2 separate regions of the Homo sapiens genome follow, and region 1 is linked to region 2. The links come from fine-mapping of genetic effects on plasma protein levels. Region 2 holds a variant in brackets. A gene starts in the other region. All regions are shown on their reverse strands.

The links. A credible set is the group of variants that fine-mapping cannot tell apart. PIP is the posterior inclusion probability: the model's chance that the variant is causal. The UK Biobank Pharma Proteomics Project read protein levels with antibody pairs (Olink). The fine-mapping took linkage between variants from a reference panel, not from the people measured, so its PIPs are less certain.
Region 1: it holds the start of TNFRSF19, and the variant in region 2 is the best candidate, but not a certain one, in a credible set for the plasma level of the TNFRSF19 protein (UK Biobank, PIP 0.51).

Annotation. Positions count from the first base shown.
Region 1 is chr13:23,564,137-23,573,499 of GRCh38, reverse strand. It overlaps TNFRSF19 (TNF receptor superfamily member 19), which reads right to left and starts at 3,088. Exons shown (of 10, transcript NM_148957.4): 1 at 2,652-3,088. RefSeq lists enhancers at 4,653-5,164, 5,165-5,677.
Region 2 is chr3:198,025,609-198,035,217 of GRCh38, reverse strand. The region is part of intron 15 of LMLN (leishmanolysin like peptidase); the gene reads right to left. Among named protein-coding and RNA genes, the nearest start is that of LMLN-AS1, 9.1 kb to the left of the region's middle. The variant A/T (reference allele first, on the strand shown) is at 5,881.

The DNA of each region.
Region 1 (9,363 bases), not on the chromosome of region 2:
TACACACACACACAGAGGCAAACACACAAATACATATATAATTCCACATCACATTGATGCATTAAACTTTTTGTGAAAATTATTTTACGTGTTAAATTATGTTAAATTATGGGTAGCAGCTACTGTGTTTAGACAGCTTAGAAGTCCAGAAGTAGAAGGAACAGTTGGAAAATAATCAGACGAATCCAGCTGACTGACATATCTATCATGGAAACAAAAAAAAAATGCACTACAATAGGAAGTGGCTGTCTTTATTTTTCAAACTAATATTGTTCTTTGATGAGCTACAGAGTGCATTTGTTTAAGCAGTTGTTGGAAAGCAGACCCTGCATGGTAGACTGGAAAGAACATTGGACTAGAACTGGGAAAATCAGCCATGTGACCTTGTTAAGATAGGGACATTCGTTTTCTATAGCCTCAGTTTCCTCATCTGTAAAATGGCCATAAAAATTCCAATTCTGCTTATTTCATAAAGATGATGTGATCAACTCCCTCACTTCACACATGAGGAAACTCTCTTGAGGTCATATAGCTAATTGGTGACAGTATCAGGACTCAACATAAAAGTCTTTTGAAGACTTGGACTTTCTGTAGTAACAAAGCTGCCATTGAAGCAACAGATAGGAAAGTGCTTTGAAAAATGTCACATAAGGGTTTTGTTCAGTAGAAGTAATAGGACTATATCTGCCAAAGTCATTTTGTGGCAATTAATTAGGAAATGCCTTTTGAGACTGTACCTGTACCTTCAGATACAACCATCTTTATTTTAAAATCAAATACACTCTATTTCATTTCTCAACAATGACACTAGAAGTAAACAATTAACTGAATTAATTCAAACACTGAAGTGGATTTTCAAGGACTTGACTTGCCCAAGCTAGTTTTCTACAAAGCCTAAATTAATCAGATAATTGCTAATTCTCCCCTTTGTTTTGTGCTGAGGAGAGCCTGTATTTGTTAAAATGATCCTAGTAGCAGGATAAACAGTCATTTTAAAAATTTTAAAATCCAAATCTGAACTAAATGAGCAAGTTTCAGACACACTATTTCTTTAGGCACCATCTCCAGTCATTGTTTTAAAAGGCTAATTTTCTTTATCTGAATGTGAACATTAATACCACTTTTGTGATTAAAAGGAAGATTTTAAGCAAACAAATTAAAAAAAAATCAAACTAAACCGATATTGCAGGATATTGTGAACATGATTTGTTGTACTCTTAGAAAAAAAAAGCAAATGCCTCTCCTGGCATGACTAAAAACAGCAGTTAAATCTTTAAGATTAAGTTATTAATGACACACTTTAAAAATATAATCAGTTTAGCATGGCTTTAAATAACCTCCACTTAACAACTAGCAAAGTTTTAAAATTAAATAAACAATGCTAATTACCCTTCTAGTATCAAGAGGAAAGTGTAGAAAGTAATTTAATTAATTGGCTGTGAAAAATTAATTACTTATGAAATGAGACTCATTAGACCTTTCCTGTTTCATCAGAATTTCAGACTAAAGGATAACTGGTCTTATCACTTATGGTTTCTTTATGGTTCAGCTAGCATCAAATAGACTTGTGATAATAATTAAATATTTTGCCCAGATAAATTTAGGACTAGAACATTAAAAAAAAAAACATCGCGAACAAAGTAACAGTGTTACTTTTCCATTGTATTTAGTTTTTATATTTCACTGTAAAGATTTTACTGTGTGTGTGTGTGAGCGTGAGTGTGTGTGTATCATGAACTGACAAAAAAATAACAGTTAACTTTCAAATTCGGTACAGCAATATAATTTGGTTTTGTCATGTTGGGCATTAGCTAAAGTGAAAATGTGACTAAGATACTTTATGTAACATAATAACTGTTGATTACTCAGATAGTTTTCATAAACAGTTGGCAAATTTTGACTTAAAACAGCTGTCACTATAAATGTAAAGTAAATGTTAATTTAGGAATATTAACCTTGTGAATGTTTCTGTAAATAAGGCTTATGCTATTTCCAAAGGTTATAGAAAATCACTGGAGTATTTTTAGCCAAACTTAGTGCAACTTTATCCTCACTGTTTTTAAATTCTTCAGTTTTACACATAAAAGTCTTTAATCATACTTGATGGTTTTTCAGTGATTCCCTTGAGTGTACAAACTGCATAAGGAAGTGTATTTGATAGATTTACATCTTGGAAGTGAGAGAATAAATAAACTAAAGAAACAGTATTGCCAGAGATACATTTTACTCTTTTATATAAGAAAACAAAGAAAGCATTTTCAACAAGCAAAGTTGCACTGACTGTTTACTAAATAAGGTAACCTGTAAATACTTAGAGCAATTATAGCTCACAGATCTCAGGGGTTGAAGTACCAGTTGCATGCTAAAGTGAGCGCTGTTCTGTTTTGTCCTGTTTGTACAACTCATTTCCAAGTAAAATTTGTATGACAGACTGCAAACCCTCTTGTACAAACTACTAAAAATTACATCAAGTTCCATAGTTACTCTGATACACACATTCAGCATCATGTAGTATTCAGCTGTATAAATGCTTTCTAAAAAATTAATTAAAACCATTCTTTTCTCAGAACACATGCGAAAAATGCAGTGAAAGCTATAACAAAGCTTAAAACAGAGTACCTGCAACATGCTGAGCTCTTTGCAGTACTTACCCGTTCAGCAACTTAGTTTCTCCTGGCAGCACTTCTGTGCCAAATGCTTCTACCTTCCCAAAAATGTATGTCAGCACAAGCCCAGACGAAACTTCAAATCCAGGAAAATAAAATTAACCATGCAGATCAAAGGCAGACGAGCAGGGAGATGAAATGCCTGTAATCTGATCAGTGAATCAGTTGCTGAACATCAAAGGCAGGGCTGAGTTTATATATATGCATGGATATCAAAGAAAGTTCACTTTCAGCAGGTAGTTACCCTCCCACCTCCTAGTCCACAGACTCTTTTGTTAAACATGGATCACGTTGTTTTCCTCCTCTTTTTTGCAATGAGGCAATGCTGGTAGTTCTCCCATGCTTGGGCTGAGTGGCTGGATCTGTAGCTTTTTTGGTTCCCAAGCTGTGTTGTGGACTGTGTGTTGGAAGCTTTTCCTAGTGCCAGCGGGTTCTGCTTTATCCCTTTCATCTCGCTGAACTGCAGATCCCATGACATCATTCAGCGCCGTGGGACTGGTAGGAGAGCTATAATTCAGCCTGTGGGGGAGTATAGCTCAAGAGAAGCCAGAGTTTGGCTGATTTCTAATCATGTTAGACTATTGTGCCTCACACAGGACAGTTTCTGTTATCTGTCTGCCAGCTGGAAAGGACAGCAACTGCTGCTGGATGCTTCTTGGGTGATAAGATCCCTGATGGATGGACGTGCCAAATGACAGCATTTAATTGCCTCTTCGCTGATAAAAATCACAATTTCCTACAGAGACTGGGTGTCAAATATTCAGCATAGTTAAATAGCACTATGAGACCACTCTAAAAAACACCCAAGGACACTGCCAGATGGACCGATAACATTTTCACATTTTGATTCCAGTTTTCAAAGTGACAAGTCTTTAAGGATTTTAAGGAAACTGCCCTTTCTTTGAAACATACATTATTAGGATCTGATTACCAATCAAACCGGGTTGTGTTAAGTAGTTAAGCAGCAGATAACCAACAATTCATGAATAAACTGCCATCTTCCACTGGCTCACTTAAGACTTTGGGCGGAGACTTAATCTCAATCTTTGCCTTAGTTCGGGACTCTGGAAATTAGATTTTAAAGCAATATCTACTTCTTAGACATATTTCATTAATACTTGTTGAGCATTTTAAAATTCACAAAAGAAGAATTATGTAGAACAAAGCATTTGCCCTGTGATTATTCCAAAGCCATGTTATTTGCCTTTTAGGGCTGTTTCTTCCGAACTCATAGTTTGGACTTTCAACTCACTAAAAAATTACCACCTTAGCCTAATTCTTCGTATTTTAAAATTAAATATATTGCTCATTATTTAAAAATTTTAAGCTATTTTCCTTAACAATGTCAGATTCAATACAATATGATTATTTTATTTTGAGTATTTAGTAAAATAGAAGATAAGAAGAAGTTTCATCTTCCTTGAAATCCAGGATATGGTGCTTTTCTGATTTTCAGACAGTTCTTTCATGGAATGAAGACAATTTTTCTATTTTATAATGGAAACTCACTAACTTTTAGAAAGTAAGTTAAAAATATTTTTGCAAAACTTAGGGGATAGTAGAACTCAGTCTTTTTCAATGTAACTTCCCTCCTTAACTGGTTTTGTCTAATTTTTCCTGACGCGATATTTGAAAACGTTATTTATGAAGTGTTTATTTCCAGATTTCTATGATTCTTGAATAATTTTAATAGCAAAATATTTAGTTTGAACTGTTCATAAGTTCTGTATAACATTTAAATAGTCCTGTTGATTTTTCCATGTTTCTTGTATAATTTTTCTACTTATACATCATTTCTCAAAAATGCACAGGGCTCAAATAGTATTTGAACTGGCAGGTGTGATGCTTAAGGACTTCCTTAAAGCAGACCAGGAAAATTCCTGTGACATCTGGGCTTCACATACGTTTCCTGGGCATCTTGAACCCATGAATACAAAGAAAATATTTACAAAGACAAAATATTTACAAGAAGGCATGTGCCCATTTCTTTTCTGAGGTAGTCCAAACCTACCACCAGCATGGAATCCATATGCCAACAGCCTGCACTCAGGATTAAAGTTTCCCGATACACTGATATATTAAATCAGAGCAACTAGACACTCTGTAAGGCTCATTGGCTAAGCAAGTAGATTTTATGTCTTTATAGATTTCAACACCAGTAGAAATAGGTGAAGGACTGAATTCGGGTTCTTGTGTTCCACTGAAAAACATACAGGAGGCACTTGAAAGCAGGGACTTGAATGAAAACCAATCAAATGATCTTCAATTTATACAAATCTCCCCAAGCAAGCTTTGTAGTTCAAGATACATCCAACAATGCAATACCATCTCCAGTGGAAGAGTTTATTCACCAAGTCACTGGATATTATTTTGAATTGGTCCTCTTGTGGCCAAGAACTCCCCATATGTGAGATGAAAGGGGACTGAGGCTAGGGCCCCATCTGTCGCCTGGACCAGAGTGTGGCTAAAGGTCGGCCTGGCTGCAGGAGTGACCTCTTGACCTGCGGCTCATTTAGCACTGTGCCCAGCCAGCCGAGCCCCCTTCGTTGTGAGGTGTGGCCTGCACCATTGTTGTTTCTGAACAGCACCAGGAAGGGGAGCTACTACAAAGCTTTTCTCTTTCCCCTTCAAGAAGCTTAGATTAGTGTGATTAAATCAGTGTGATACAGTGGTGATAAGAGATCCAGCACTCCACTCGACATCATTGTCCGTTGTCATGACACCAAGTTACAGCATTTGATCAATGGTTCCTGTGCCATGTTGCAGTACACTTGGCTCATCTTAGTCTTTTTGTCAAGCTGCCTTTCAGCGACCTGGTTCTGCAAAGTGGTTGTGGCAGCCATTGGATCCACAGTGGGGAGCTCCAGGCTACACTTTAAAAGAAGTGGTCAGTGTTTGAGATGACGGGCATGCCAGTTACCCTGATCTGATCACTATACCTTATAGGTATAGAAATGTCACTAGGTGCCCAGGGATATGTATAATTATTATTAATCAGTTAAAAAATAAAATAAATGATTGAGAAAACTTCAGTTGTTCATATCCAAGAAGGGAGGGGCTGCCTGAGATTCCTGATGGGGAGTGGGGTCTCATGTCACCCCCAGTCGCCACCATGTGCTATTTTCTTCCCAAAACTTGGAGCGTGGTTCCTTTGCTCCTTTATCTTGACAGGTGGATGCCATGAATTCTCACCATTTTAAGATATAGATCAGGTGATAACACATTTTCCCCATAAAGTTTCATAGTTTTTTGAGTTGTCTGCATGTCTTTTCTAATGCCGTCTTTTCTAACTTTTCTGTTCAGAGGATATATCCTGGATTAGATCAGATAAACACAGATCTATTACATACATTGAGAGGAATAATTTCTGCATTTGTTTCAACTGAACACTTTTTAGAAAATGAAATAGCTCATGGTTATGAAAAGAACACGGATGCTGGAGTCAGAAAGGCCTATGTTCAAATCCCTCTTACTACCTGTACTTGAATAACAGCTTAGGCAGTGTGGACGAAGGCTACCTAGTCCCACTGAGCTTTTTAATCCTAAGCTGCAGGAAGGGGATAACACCTACCTCATTAGTGTTGCCAAAATAACAAACTTATTTCGAAAGCATCAGGCAGAATAAACCCTCAACAGAAGAGCTAAGGTTCCTTTCTTTTCTCTGTAACTATTAAAATGCCAACATTTTAGCTAGGGGATCCAATTCAAACTTCAGTATTCTAAAGGGGCAGGACAGGCTCTCACACAGCTCCTGGGCTGGTTATTCAAAGCCAAGGTAGCCCAGACATCCTCAGGTCCTTCACAATGCTGGGACCACTTGTACATGATCTGGGACCAGTAGCTGCTATCTGGGACTGTGGTCCACATAATCACAGAAAGAAAAAGGCTCAAGCCTGTTATGGGTTGGATTGTATCCCCCTAAATTCCCATGTTGATGTCTTGTCTCCCAGCACCTCAAAACATGAGCTTATCTGGAGATAGGGTCTTTACAGGGGTAATCAAGTTCAAATGTGGTCATTAGGGTGGGCCCCAACCCAGAATGACTGATGTCCCCATAAAAAGGGAGATTTAGATAAAGAGGCAGACACTCATATAGGTAGAACACTGTGTGGACATGAGGATGACCATCTACAAGCCAGGGTAAGAGGCCGGGAACAGACCTGTCCCTCACAGCCTCAGAAGGAACCAACCCTGCTGATACCTTGATCTCTGACTTCCAGCCCCCAGAACTGTGCGAGGACATACTGCTGCTGTTGAAGTCTGTGGTACTTTGTTATCACAGCCTCAAGAAACTAATACAAAGCCACTATCCAACAAACTACAAAGAGGTACAACTCCCATTTTCCTACATATTCTGAAGCCTTACATTCTCCTCATCAGCATCTGCCTCCTACAAAGCACCCCCAGCTCCAGTGGACACCCCCTGCCCTTCTGGACTCCCTCCGACCTCGTGAGCAGAAGACGCCTTCCTTTTCTTAAAGGGCCAGTTCAGGGGTACTGTTCAGTGAAGCTGAGTATGACTGAAAGTCACTAAAGGTAACTGGGATAGAACCCAGTTTCTGGCTACTGTAAATAAAGCTGCCATGAACACTTCATGAACCTGAAAGAGCCAATCCTTCCAAATGGATCCTGAGTGGCTAACTGGGTCTAAATTCAGAATGGAGCCAGGTCACAAACGTCTTCTGCATTCTCTGAGAAACCACAGGCTCGCGTGATTTGGGGACTTTCATGGCTGTCTGCTCCTATTTATGCTCCCTGATTTGATGGGTGCTGGGAAGTCTCATCTTGACTTCTGGATCTAACAAATAGACTTGTGACTTGCATTGACCAATCAAAACCAAACATACTTGCATCCCTCTCACTTGCAGAGCAGACCAGAGTGGGAATCTGGGTGGGAGCTTTTTCTATAAAGGATAACCTGTCTCTCTGTTCTCAGGGAGAGCATCTTTGTTTTGTACTGAAGGCTGGGTCTCCCTGGTTTGCAAACTGCTTACAGGAATAAAATCATTCTCTTTTTTAAGGAAGATCCTTTTCAGTGGATTTGTTGATAATACTTGTGTACAAGTCTTAGTGTGGATATATATTTTCATTTTTGTTAAGTAAATATGTAGGAGTAGAATTTCTGGATTATATGGTGTATGTATGTTTAACTTCAAAAGAAACTGCTGGCTGGGCGTGGTGGCTCATGCCTGTAATCCCAGCACTTTGGGAGGCCGAGGTGGGTGGATCACAAGGTCAGGAGATCAAGACCATCCTGGCTGGCACGGTGAAACCCCGTCTCTACTAAAAATACAAAAAATTAGCTAAGCGTGATGGCGGGTGCCTGTAGTCCCAGCTACTCGGGAGGCTGAGGCAGGAGAATGGCATGAACCCATGAGGCGGAGGTTGCAGTGAGCCGAGATTGCGCCACTGCACTCCGGCCTGGGCAACAGAGAGAGACTCCGTCTCAAAAAAAAAAAAAAAAAAAGAAACTGCCAAATTGTTGTCTCAAGTGTTTGTTCCAGTTTACATTCCTGTTGGCAATATAGGAGATTTCCATTTGCTCTACATCCTTGGCAAAACTTGATATTGTCAATTTTTGTCATTTCAGCTATTTAAATGCAGTCTAATAGTAGCTTATGATAGTTTAAATTTGCATTTTGTTGATGCTAGCACTCAATTTATATATAGAGAGACACTTTACTTTTTAGAACAGTTTTAGATTGACAGAAAGATTGAGCAGCTACTACAGAGATTTCCCATACATTCCCTGTGCCCCACTCAGCTTCCCCTAGTATTTGCATCTTGCATCACTGTGATATATTTGTAATAATTAATGAATCAATATAGGTGCATTATTAACTAGAGTTCATAGTTTACACTAAAATTCATTCTTTCTGCATATACTTCTATGGATTTTTTTTTTTTTTTTTTTTTAGATAGAGTCTTGCTCTGTCACCCAGGCTGGAGTGCAGTGGCGTGATCTTGGCTCACTGCAACCTCTGCCTCCCAGGTTCAAGCGATTCTCCTGCCTCAGCCTCCCGAGTAGCTGGGATTACAGGTGTGAGCCACCACTCTCAGCTAATTTTTGTATTTTTAGTAGAGATGGGGTTTTGCCATGTTGGCCAGGATGGTCTTGAACTCCTGACCTCAAGTGATCTGCCTGCCTTGGCCTCCCAAAGTGCTGATGTGAGCCACCGCACCTAGCCAGACTTCTATGGATTTTGCCTAATATATAATAACATGTGTTCACCATTACAGTTTTGTACAGAGTAGTTTCACTGCTGTAAAAATCCCCTGTGCTCCACCTATTCATCCCTCCTTCCCCTAGAGCCCCTGGCAACCACTGATGTTTCTAAAGTCTCTATAGTTTTGCCTTTTCCATAATGTTATATAGGTAGAATTATATGGTATGTAGTCTTTTCTGATTGGCTTCTTTCTTAGCAGTATGCATTTAACTTTCTTCTATGACTTGCTGTGACTTGATAGCTCGTTTCTTTTTATTGTTAAGTATTCCATTGTCTGTATATAGTTTATCATTCACCTATTGAAGGACATCTTGGTTGCTTCCAGTTTTTGTGATTATGAATGAAGCTTCTATAAACATTCATGTGTAGGTTTTTGTGAGACTATAAGTTTTCCCTAGGAGCATGATTGCTGGATCATGTGGTAAGACTGCAGTTAACTTTTAAAGAAACTGCCAAACTGTCCTCCAGAG
Region 2 (9,609 bases):
TTTTTTTTTTTTTTTTTGAGATGGGGTCTTGCTCTGTTGCCCAGGCTGGAATACAGTGGCGATCTTGGCTCACTGCAGCTTTGAGTACCTTGGGCTCAGATGATCCCCCCACCTCAGCCTCCTGAGTAGCTGGGACTACAGGCATGTGCCACTATGCCTGGCTAATTTTTGTATTTTCTTGTAGAGATGGGGTTTGGGTTTTGTCATGTTGCCTAGGCTGGTCTCGAACTCCCGGACTCAAGTTATCCACCCACCCTGGCCTCCCAAAGTGTTGGGATTAAAGGTTTGAGCCACTGCACCTGGCCATAAGTCAAATTTTAATTGGGGTTTGAAATTATAAAAATGTTTATTATAAACAAACAAGAATTTATACAGCATAGAAACGCCACACAGCACAAGTTCTTCATTCTTTCTCCCTAACCCTAAATGCTCTGCTCAGTCACAGGAATTTTATCCAGACCTTATCTTTAAAGGCAAGACTCATAGCTCATTTGCACGTGATAGCTAATGAAATCAGTTTTTAAAAGCAAAAGAAAACACATTAATGCTAACTTTTAAAACATTTAGAAATAGTAATTTTTTAAAATTTTAATTTATTTATTTTTTTTAGACCAAGTCTCACTCTGTTGCCCAGGCTGGAGTGCAGTGGCATGATCTTGGCTCACTGCAACCTCTGCCTCATGGGTTCAAGCAATTCTCGTGCCTAAGCCTCCCAAGTAGCTGGGACTACAGGCCTGTGCTACCACACCCAGCTAAATTTTTGTATTTTTAGTAGAGATGGGGTTTCACCATGTTGGCCAGGCTGGTCTTGAACTCCTGACCTCAGGTGATCTGCCCGCCTCGGCCTCCCAAAGTGCTAGGATTACAGGCGTGAGCCACCGCACCCAGCCAAAAATTTTAACTATTTTAAAAAAAACCTCAAAGTTGTTTTCTACAAAGACTTCACATTCAATTATGCTACTTCCCTTTAAACACTTCTGAAACTTCTCTCTTGGACCTATCTTCAAAGTCAGTGCATGCTTCTGAACCTGTCTGATGGTAGCAAATTTTTAAGTAGCAAGTAGATATAATTTTTGGAAATAGCCCAAGGTTGCCCAGAAGCAAGTCCAGCAAAGGTAGTTGACTAACCTGGTTAAGACAACGTGTGACACAAAATTACTAAGATTGATTTCCTTAGGTGACTATTAAACTACCAAAGATAATTTCAAAAGTATATTTGAAGTCATTTTGAAATAACTCTATCATCAGTTAAGTTGAAATATATCACTCTTTTGAACATTTGTTTTAAGATATCACAAAAACAAACAATGAAGTGTGACCTCTTCTCTGTCACTCCGTGATCCACATCAAGTAAGCATCACCACAGCTACAGTGCAACATCATTATTCTTTAAAGCGAGACTTGATCAAGCGCCGTGCTTGGCGCTGAAAAGGACACTAAAAAAGTACACAATACAGTGCCTGCCCTCTAGCAGTTTCAATTGAGGAAAGAGGAGTAGGATATAAAAATTTTTTTCAGCCGGGCACAGCGGCTCATGCCTGTAATCCCAGCACTGTGGGACACCAAGGCAGGTGGATCACCTGAGGTCAGGAGTTCGAGACCAGCCTGGCCAACCTGGTGAAACCCCGTCTCTACTAAAAATACAAAAATTAGCCAGGCGTAATGGTGGGCTACTCGAGTGGCTGAGGCATAAGAATCACTTGAACCCAGGAGGCCGAGGTTGCAGTGAGCTGAGATCCCATCACTGCACTCCAGCCTGGGTGACAGAGTGAGACTCCATCTCAAAAAAAAAAGATAATAAAAATAATAATTTTTTTTATAAAATACTAACTGTATTTTGAAATTAGAAGAAAAAGCAAAAAATGAACAGTACCAGACTATTTTATGATTAAGAGTCAATAAATGGTAGAAACAAGAACAAATATTAGAAACTTTCATGGAAGACAGCATTTGCATCCTAAGGATGTACACAGGATTTGGACTACTGCCGGGCAGATGTTACAGGTTGGGAAGCAGAATGCACATGGCTTAGAGATGAGAATTATATGAGAGTGTTGATAGGACAAGAGGAAAACTCCCTTGCTGAAGTTGAAGTATTCTCATTGTGGAATTCTGGGAATTAAGTGTGGGCAGGAGGGTAGATGTACAGGTAGCAGCAGACATAACAGACTCAGGAAAGCTGGATCAAAATCCAGCAACAGGAAGAGCCAGGAAGAAACTGATCTGCAGAACACAAGAGGGCTCAGGACTGCCACAGCCACACCTGGTACCAAGAAGTAAGAGCTACAATCAAAAGGATTAGACAAACGTCTGTTTCAGAGACAGACGCCAGCATTCCTCTCCCTCACTGCGACCAGCTGGACCAGTTCGTTCCGAACCCAGCTGATATAGTTTGGGTATTTGTCCAAATCTTCTGTTGAAATATGATTCCCAGTGTTGGATGTGGGGCCTAGTGAGAGGTGTCTGGGTCATGGGGATGGATCCCTCATGAATAGCTTGGTGCCCTCCCCACAGGAATAAGTTCCCCAGAGATCTGCTTGTTCAAGAGGTCGGGAGCTCCCTCCTCTCTCGTTCCCGCTCTATGTGATAAGCCTGCCCCCACTCTGCCTTCCGCCATGACTGTAAGCTTCCTGAGCCGTCACCAGAAGCCGATGACAGCACTTATGCTTCCTGTAGTCTGCAGAACTGTAAGCCAAAATTAACCTCTTTTCTTTATAAATTACCCAGCCTCAGATACTCCTTTACAGCAACGCAAAATGGACTAATACACCAGCATACTGGAGATTTATTTTTTGGAAAGGGTAAAACAGAGTTTTTCTGTTCTGGGGAAAACTAAGTACAGCAGAGAGCTGGGATGCCATCATGAAAATAAGGACTCGAAGTTTACAGGTTAAAGCATTCAAAATCGACTTCCTTCCTAGAACTCTGACAGCATATAAACTTAGGCGGGTCACTGGCAGTTTCTCTGACCAATCTGACCCGTCAAAAGGACGGACATCAAAGGTTTTGTAAGAAAGGAGCCCCATAGGGAGACCACAGTCAACAAGCCCTATGTGTGTGCTCAGAGCTTCCAAACTGGCTTCCAGGCACTTTTCTTTTCTTTTTTTTTTTTTTTTGAGTCAGAGTCTCACTCTGTCGCCCAGGCTGTGGTACAATAGTGTCATCTCAGCTCACTGCAACCTCCACCTCCTGGGTTCAAGTGATTCTCATGCCTCAGCCTCCTGTGTAGCTGGAATTACAGGCGCCCACCACCACACCGGGCTAATTTTTGTATTTTTAGTAGATGAGGGGTTTCATCATGTTGGCCAGGCTGCTTTCAAACTCTTGACCTCAAGTGATCCGCCTGTCTCGGGCTCCCAAAGTGCTGTGATTACAGGTGTGAGCCACTGTGCCAGGCTCCAGTCACTTCTTGAATATGAACAGGCTGTTAATGATCACCAAAAATAGAATCAACCCATTAAATTTTGGAATACTGGGGCTTGTGGCAGATGAGGATGTGGTATGCGAAGTTAAAATTAAGAATTTACAGCTTCCAGAGAAGAAAGAAAAAAGATTCTGGCAATTGAAACTCAGAATGACACTGACAGTCAGCACACAAAGGAAAAATGCTTTCAGAATTCTGATGGAAAATAATTTTCTTTCTTTTTTTCCTGCACCCAATCATCCATTAGGAAAATAATTTTCAAAAATAAAGCTATACCCACCCAAGCTATTGAAGGACGGCAGAACACGCCACCCCAAAATGTGCTGTTTTGGCACAAAGGTTTCCAGCTAAAGGGACTTCAACACAGCAGACCCAGCAAGACTGTTCTGACATCCCCCTTCCTCCTGAAAGCAGAAGACACAACTCCCACATGAATAATACCCTTCCTTTTCCAGGAGAAAACAAACATTTTTATCACCAATATGGGGAGTCAAAGCCAAAGAATTTGGTACAAACAGACCTTCTTAAAATAATTCTTATCTTCCTTTAGCCTCCGCATACATTTTACTTTTCTGTAACTGTCTCCCTTTGTTCAATGTAGTATAAAAGTATATAGGTTTCACACTTCTTTGAGTTTTCATTTACTCATGTGGGCTCCTGTGTCATGTAAAACTTAGATTAAATAAATGTGTATGTTTTCCTCCTGTTCATCGGGCTTATGCCTATTTCATTCTCAGGCCTAGCTGAGGACCCTGAGGGCAGAGGTGAGGTCCCGCCTTCCCACGCTGTCAGCAGGCGTCACGGTGGAAACTAGCTGAGGACCCTGAGGGCAGAGGTGAGGTCCCGCCTTCCCACGCTGTCAGCAGGCGTCACATCACGGTGGAAACTAGCTGAAGACCCTGAGGGCAGAGATGAAGTCCCGCCTTCCCACGCTGTCAGCAGGCGTCACAGTGGAACAGTGATGCTTTCAGACATGCAAGTCTCAACATTGTTCTCCGTCACATACTCCTCAAATCTCCACTAGAAGATATGTTCCATTAAAATAAAAAAAATCCAAAAAAGAATATGACACAAAATCCATGAAGGAGGGGATCCAATATGAGAGAGACAGAGGGACCAGAGGGACCTCCAGGATGATCCTGACTCGAGATCCCAAGATGCCAGCTGTGCTGCCAACATAAGGATTATATAGTCGAGATTAGCACAGGCCAGAAATGTCCAGAAGAGATTTCCTCAAGATGAAATGGATAGAATACCTCAGGTATCTGGTTCTACTGAAAGGAGATGAGCCCAACTGGGAGAAGAGCTTAGAATTGAATTAGTGCTAAATACAAAGAAAACTAATTGCAAAAAAACAAGGTCTTAAATCCAGAGAAAACGAAATACTGGGGAGAACGGGGAAGTAATGATTGCATGCTACCAGGCGCCACGTCTGCATAGTCCTGGTAATGTAAACAGTGAATACGTATTTATCCATAATCACCACTGGGAGGATGGGAAACAAGAAGTGTACGATGGGGAAAGAGGAAGTGAACACAGCAAGAGGACGAGGCGAACCAACTAAATTCTTATTTTCCAAAGTCAACAGCTAACATTTGAAATTCAAACCTTATGAAAGAATAATATAAGCTTTTTAAAAATAAAAAAGCAGGCCAGGTGCAGTGGCTCACGCCTGTAATCCCAGCACTTTGGGAGGCCCAGGCAGGCAGATCACTTGAGGTCAGGATTTTGAGACCAGCCTGGCCAACATGGTGAAACCCTGTCTCTACTAAAAATAAAAAAAAACAGCTAGGCATGGTGGCGGGCGCCTATAATCCCAGCTACTTGGGAGGCTGAGGCAGGAGAATCACTTGAACCTGGGAAGCGGAGGTTGCAGTGAGCCGAGGGATCATGCCACCTGCACTCCAGCCTGGGAGACAGAACAAGAATCTATCTCAAAAAAGTAATAATAATAAAAAAAAATAAGAAAGCAAATAGTAAGTCTCCCCTGACTCCTCCACCCCCAACAAAACAACAACTAAGAATTGAAAGTGAAGACTCTGGGAAGAAGTAATAAACATTAGGGAAGTAATAACAGAGGCTCTAGTTTTTTGTGTGTTTTTCTGTTTGTTTGTTTGTTTTTACATGTAGTCTCACTCCATTGCCCGGGCTGGAGTGCAGTGGTGCGATCTTGGCTCACTGCAACCTCCATCTCCCAGGTTCAAGCGATTCTCATGCCTCAGCCACCTGAATATCTGGGATCACAGGCAGGCGGCCACCATGCCCGGCTAATTTTTGTATTTTTAGTAGAGACAGGGTTTCACCATGTTGCCTGGGCTGATCTCGAACTCCTGACCTCAAGTGTTAGCCTCAGCCAACCAAAGTGCTGGGATTACAGGCATGAGTCACAGCGCCTGGCCTGAGGCTGTAGTTTTTTGGAAGCAGACAACAAATTTGTTTCAAACTATTTGCATGTA[A/T]AAGTTTGATCAAAACTAAAATTTTAAAAGGATCAACGTGGTCATGGAAGTAAGATGAGAGGAGGGAAATTAGTTAGGAAACTGTGAAGTGATAATGGCTTGAACTATGAAGGTAAACCTAAAATAAAATAGATATAAGAGATTTCAATAGGAGAGTAATCTAAAGACTTAGTCTGTATTGACCGTCTTTATAGAACAGAGAGTAGAAAATGATCATTCTGGTTTCTAATTAGAGAGACTGGGACCAGTGCTGGAAGCAACACAGCCGAAATGCAGCGTTGTTGAGAGAGGGCTCCTAAACTGGATTTTGGAGGAACTGAATTCAGAATGATCAAAGTACAACCAAATGTACTTGAGACGTCCACAGCCAGTTCAGACATGGGGCTGGAATGATGTAAGATGATACTAAGAACGACTCTTTAATACACACCACAGAACAGTATGTGTAACTTGATACTATTGGTGTAAAAAATGAAACAAAAATATAAATTTGTGCCTGCACAGAGTTTATCTTTAGAAGGATGCAAGAAACTGGTAATATTACTTCCCTCCGAAGGGAGAAGTGAGTGACTAAAAGACGGGGCTGGGAAAGGCTTTTCCTGTACCCTGTACATTCTTTTGCATCTTTTGAATTTTTCACCATGTGAATTGCTGACTTATTTAATCAATATATAAATTACTTAAAAATTTATATTAAAAGGTGCCATCAGCACAAAAGGTGATATGATAAGGTCCATGATCTCAGTTTCATCAGGGAAAAACATGTTAAGAACACAAAGGGTTGACATGAAAACACACGCTTAAAGGTCTCTTTTGTACAGAGATAATACAGTTTCCCTTTGAACTTTCACCTGAAGTATTTCATCCCACTTTTTATTTCATTTATTCTTATTTATGTTAGTCTCAGCAATTATTTAGCCACAGATAGCCAATCTTTAACTTATAACAAAGTCCATTTCAACAACTCATTTATCTTATGGACGAATATCCTACAGGTGTCAAAGCCCACAGAATGTAGAACACCCAGAGTGAACCCTAATGTGAACATGGACTTCGGATGATGATGTCGGTTCATCGAAACACCCAGAGTGAACCCTAATGTGAACATGGACTTCGGATGATGATGTCGGTTCATTGAAAACACCCAGAGTGAACCCTAATGTGAACATGGACTTTGGATGATGATGTGGGTTCATCGATTGTACCAAAAATGCCTCTGTGGTACAGGATGCTGACGGTGCGGAAGGCCACGAGTGTGTGGAGCAGGGGTATATGGGAACTCTCTGTACCTTCCACTTAAATTTGTTGTGAACCTAAAATTGCTCTAAAAAATAAAGTCTATTAATAATAATAAAAAAGAAACCTCAAAATAACACCAAAAACCCCTCAACAACAACAACAAAAAACCTAGTTTGGTAGTTCCTAAAAAAGCTAAACATAGAATTGCCATATGATACAGCAATTCTACTGCTGAGTAGACTGAAAATAGGGACTCAGACAGATACGCGGAAGCCAGTGTTCGCTGCAGCAAGACTCCAATAGCCAAGAGGTGGACACAAACGACCTAAGTGTCCATCAACTGATTCAAAACGTGACAGATCCATACAATGGAGTGTTATTGAGACATAAAGGAACACCGTAAGGAATACTGTTCTGATACATGGCACAATGTGGATGAACCCTGAGAATGCCACGCTAAGTAAAAGGAGTCAGGTACAAAAGGACAAACATGGTATGATTCTACTTATAAGGACTATCTAGATTAGGCAAATCCACAGAGAGAGGACGTAGAATAGAGGCTGTCAGGGCTGGGGGAGGAGGAAGAGGGAGGGATTGTTTAGTGAGTACAGAGTTTCTGAGACGCTCGGTGGCAATGTGCATGACAACGTGAATGTATTTAGTGCCACTTAACTATACACGTAAAAACAGTTAAAATGGAAATGTTTATGTTATATATATTTTGCCACAATTTTAAGAAAAAAAAGCCCAGTGATCCCTCCCTTTCTCCTTTCCCCTTCCTCAAAAGCAATTACGTCTAAAGCCGTTAAGTGAGGCAAGGTAGGTGATCTGTTTGGAGGGGTGGGGGAGGTGTGTGACCGGGAGGTCACGCAGAGTTGGCCGGGTGACGAGGGTAATGGGAGTGGGAGAAAGTGGACGGGATGTGGATAGATCAGATGAGTAAACATGCTGAGATGACAGCAGCTGGACTTCTCACTGTTGGTGAAGGAAGTACATATGTGAAAAGGTGGAAAACTAAAATAAATGCTTTGGTATCAGACAAGGTCTCCAACCGATGGAATCAAACCAACCTTACTGATGCAAACTCATGATTACTTACACACACACACACGCACTCACAGGAGAGTGTACTGATACATATACATACATTTCCTACCTTACTAAGAGGGCCTGATGAGCTGGTATTCCCAATTCCCAAATGTTATTATCAATGACAATCAACAGTATAATTACCACCCAGATCTTAGTCTCTAACACCACACTCCACTAAAAGCAATGAACAGTATAATTAGCGCCCAGATCTTAGTCTCTAACACCAAACACTCCACCAAAAGCAATCAACAGTATAATTACCGCCCAGATCTTAGTCTCTAAACACCATACTCCATTAAAAGTAACTAGGGGCCTCTGGAGAAACGGTTAATTCCACGTCAGGGGTAGACAAAGAACAAAGTGAGCTTAGAATATCTTGTTACAGAAAGAAAAGAAATATTCGGCCAGGACTGGTGGCTCATGCTTATAATCCCAGCACTTTGGGAGGCTGAGGCAGGAGGATCAGTTTAGGCCAGGAGTTTGAGACCAGCCTGGTCAATTTTTGTACTAAAAATACAAAAATTAGCTGGGTATGGTGGCGCATGCCTGTGATTCCAGCTGTGCAGGAGGCTGAGGCACAAGAATCTCTGGAACCGGGAGGTGGAGGTTGCAGAGAGCTGAGATCGCACCACTGCACTCCAGCCTGGGTGACAGAGTAAGACCCTGTCTCAAAAGAGGAAAAATGAAAAAAAAAGTTAATTTTACATAAATTGTATGGTATGTAAAATATATCTTGATAGTGCTATTACCAGGTCAGGCAAAGTGGCTCATGTCTGTAGTCCCAGCACTTTGGGAGGCTGAGGCAGGTGAATCACATGAACCCAGGAGTTCAAGACCAGCCTGAGTAGCATGGCAAAAGCCTGTCTCTACAAAAAATAAGAAAAATCAGCCAGGTGTGGTGGTGTGCACCTGTAGTCCCAGCTTCTCAGATGGCTGAGGTGGGAGAATCGCCTGAGCCTGGGAGTTCGTGGCTGCAGTGAGCGTGATCGCACCATTGTCTCTAGCCTGGGTGACAGAGCAAAACCCTGTCTCAAAAAAAAACAGAAAAGAAGAAAAGCAGTTACCAAAAAAAACGTTAATTTGATAAGTAACTAATGATAAGAGTTAAATTTCCAGTTCTAAAGGTCCGTTTAGCTCTTGCAGCTGAAATGGCACAGGAATGCTGATTCTGCATTTCTCAGGCTTACGCTGTCCTCCCTGACATCCATTTGTAGGGTGCAGAAGATTCATTCCATTGGATGCTCCTAAGTCACAGAATGGCTACATCTTTATAAGTCCTTAATAAGGTGATGTCATATAATATCAGATGTGCAAATAAGATAATTAAGGAAATAGTAGGCGAGGCATGGTGGCCGCCATCTATAATCCCAGTACTTTGGGAGGCCAAGGCAAGAGGAT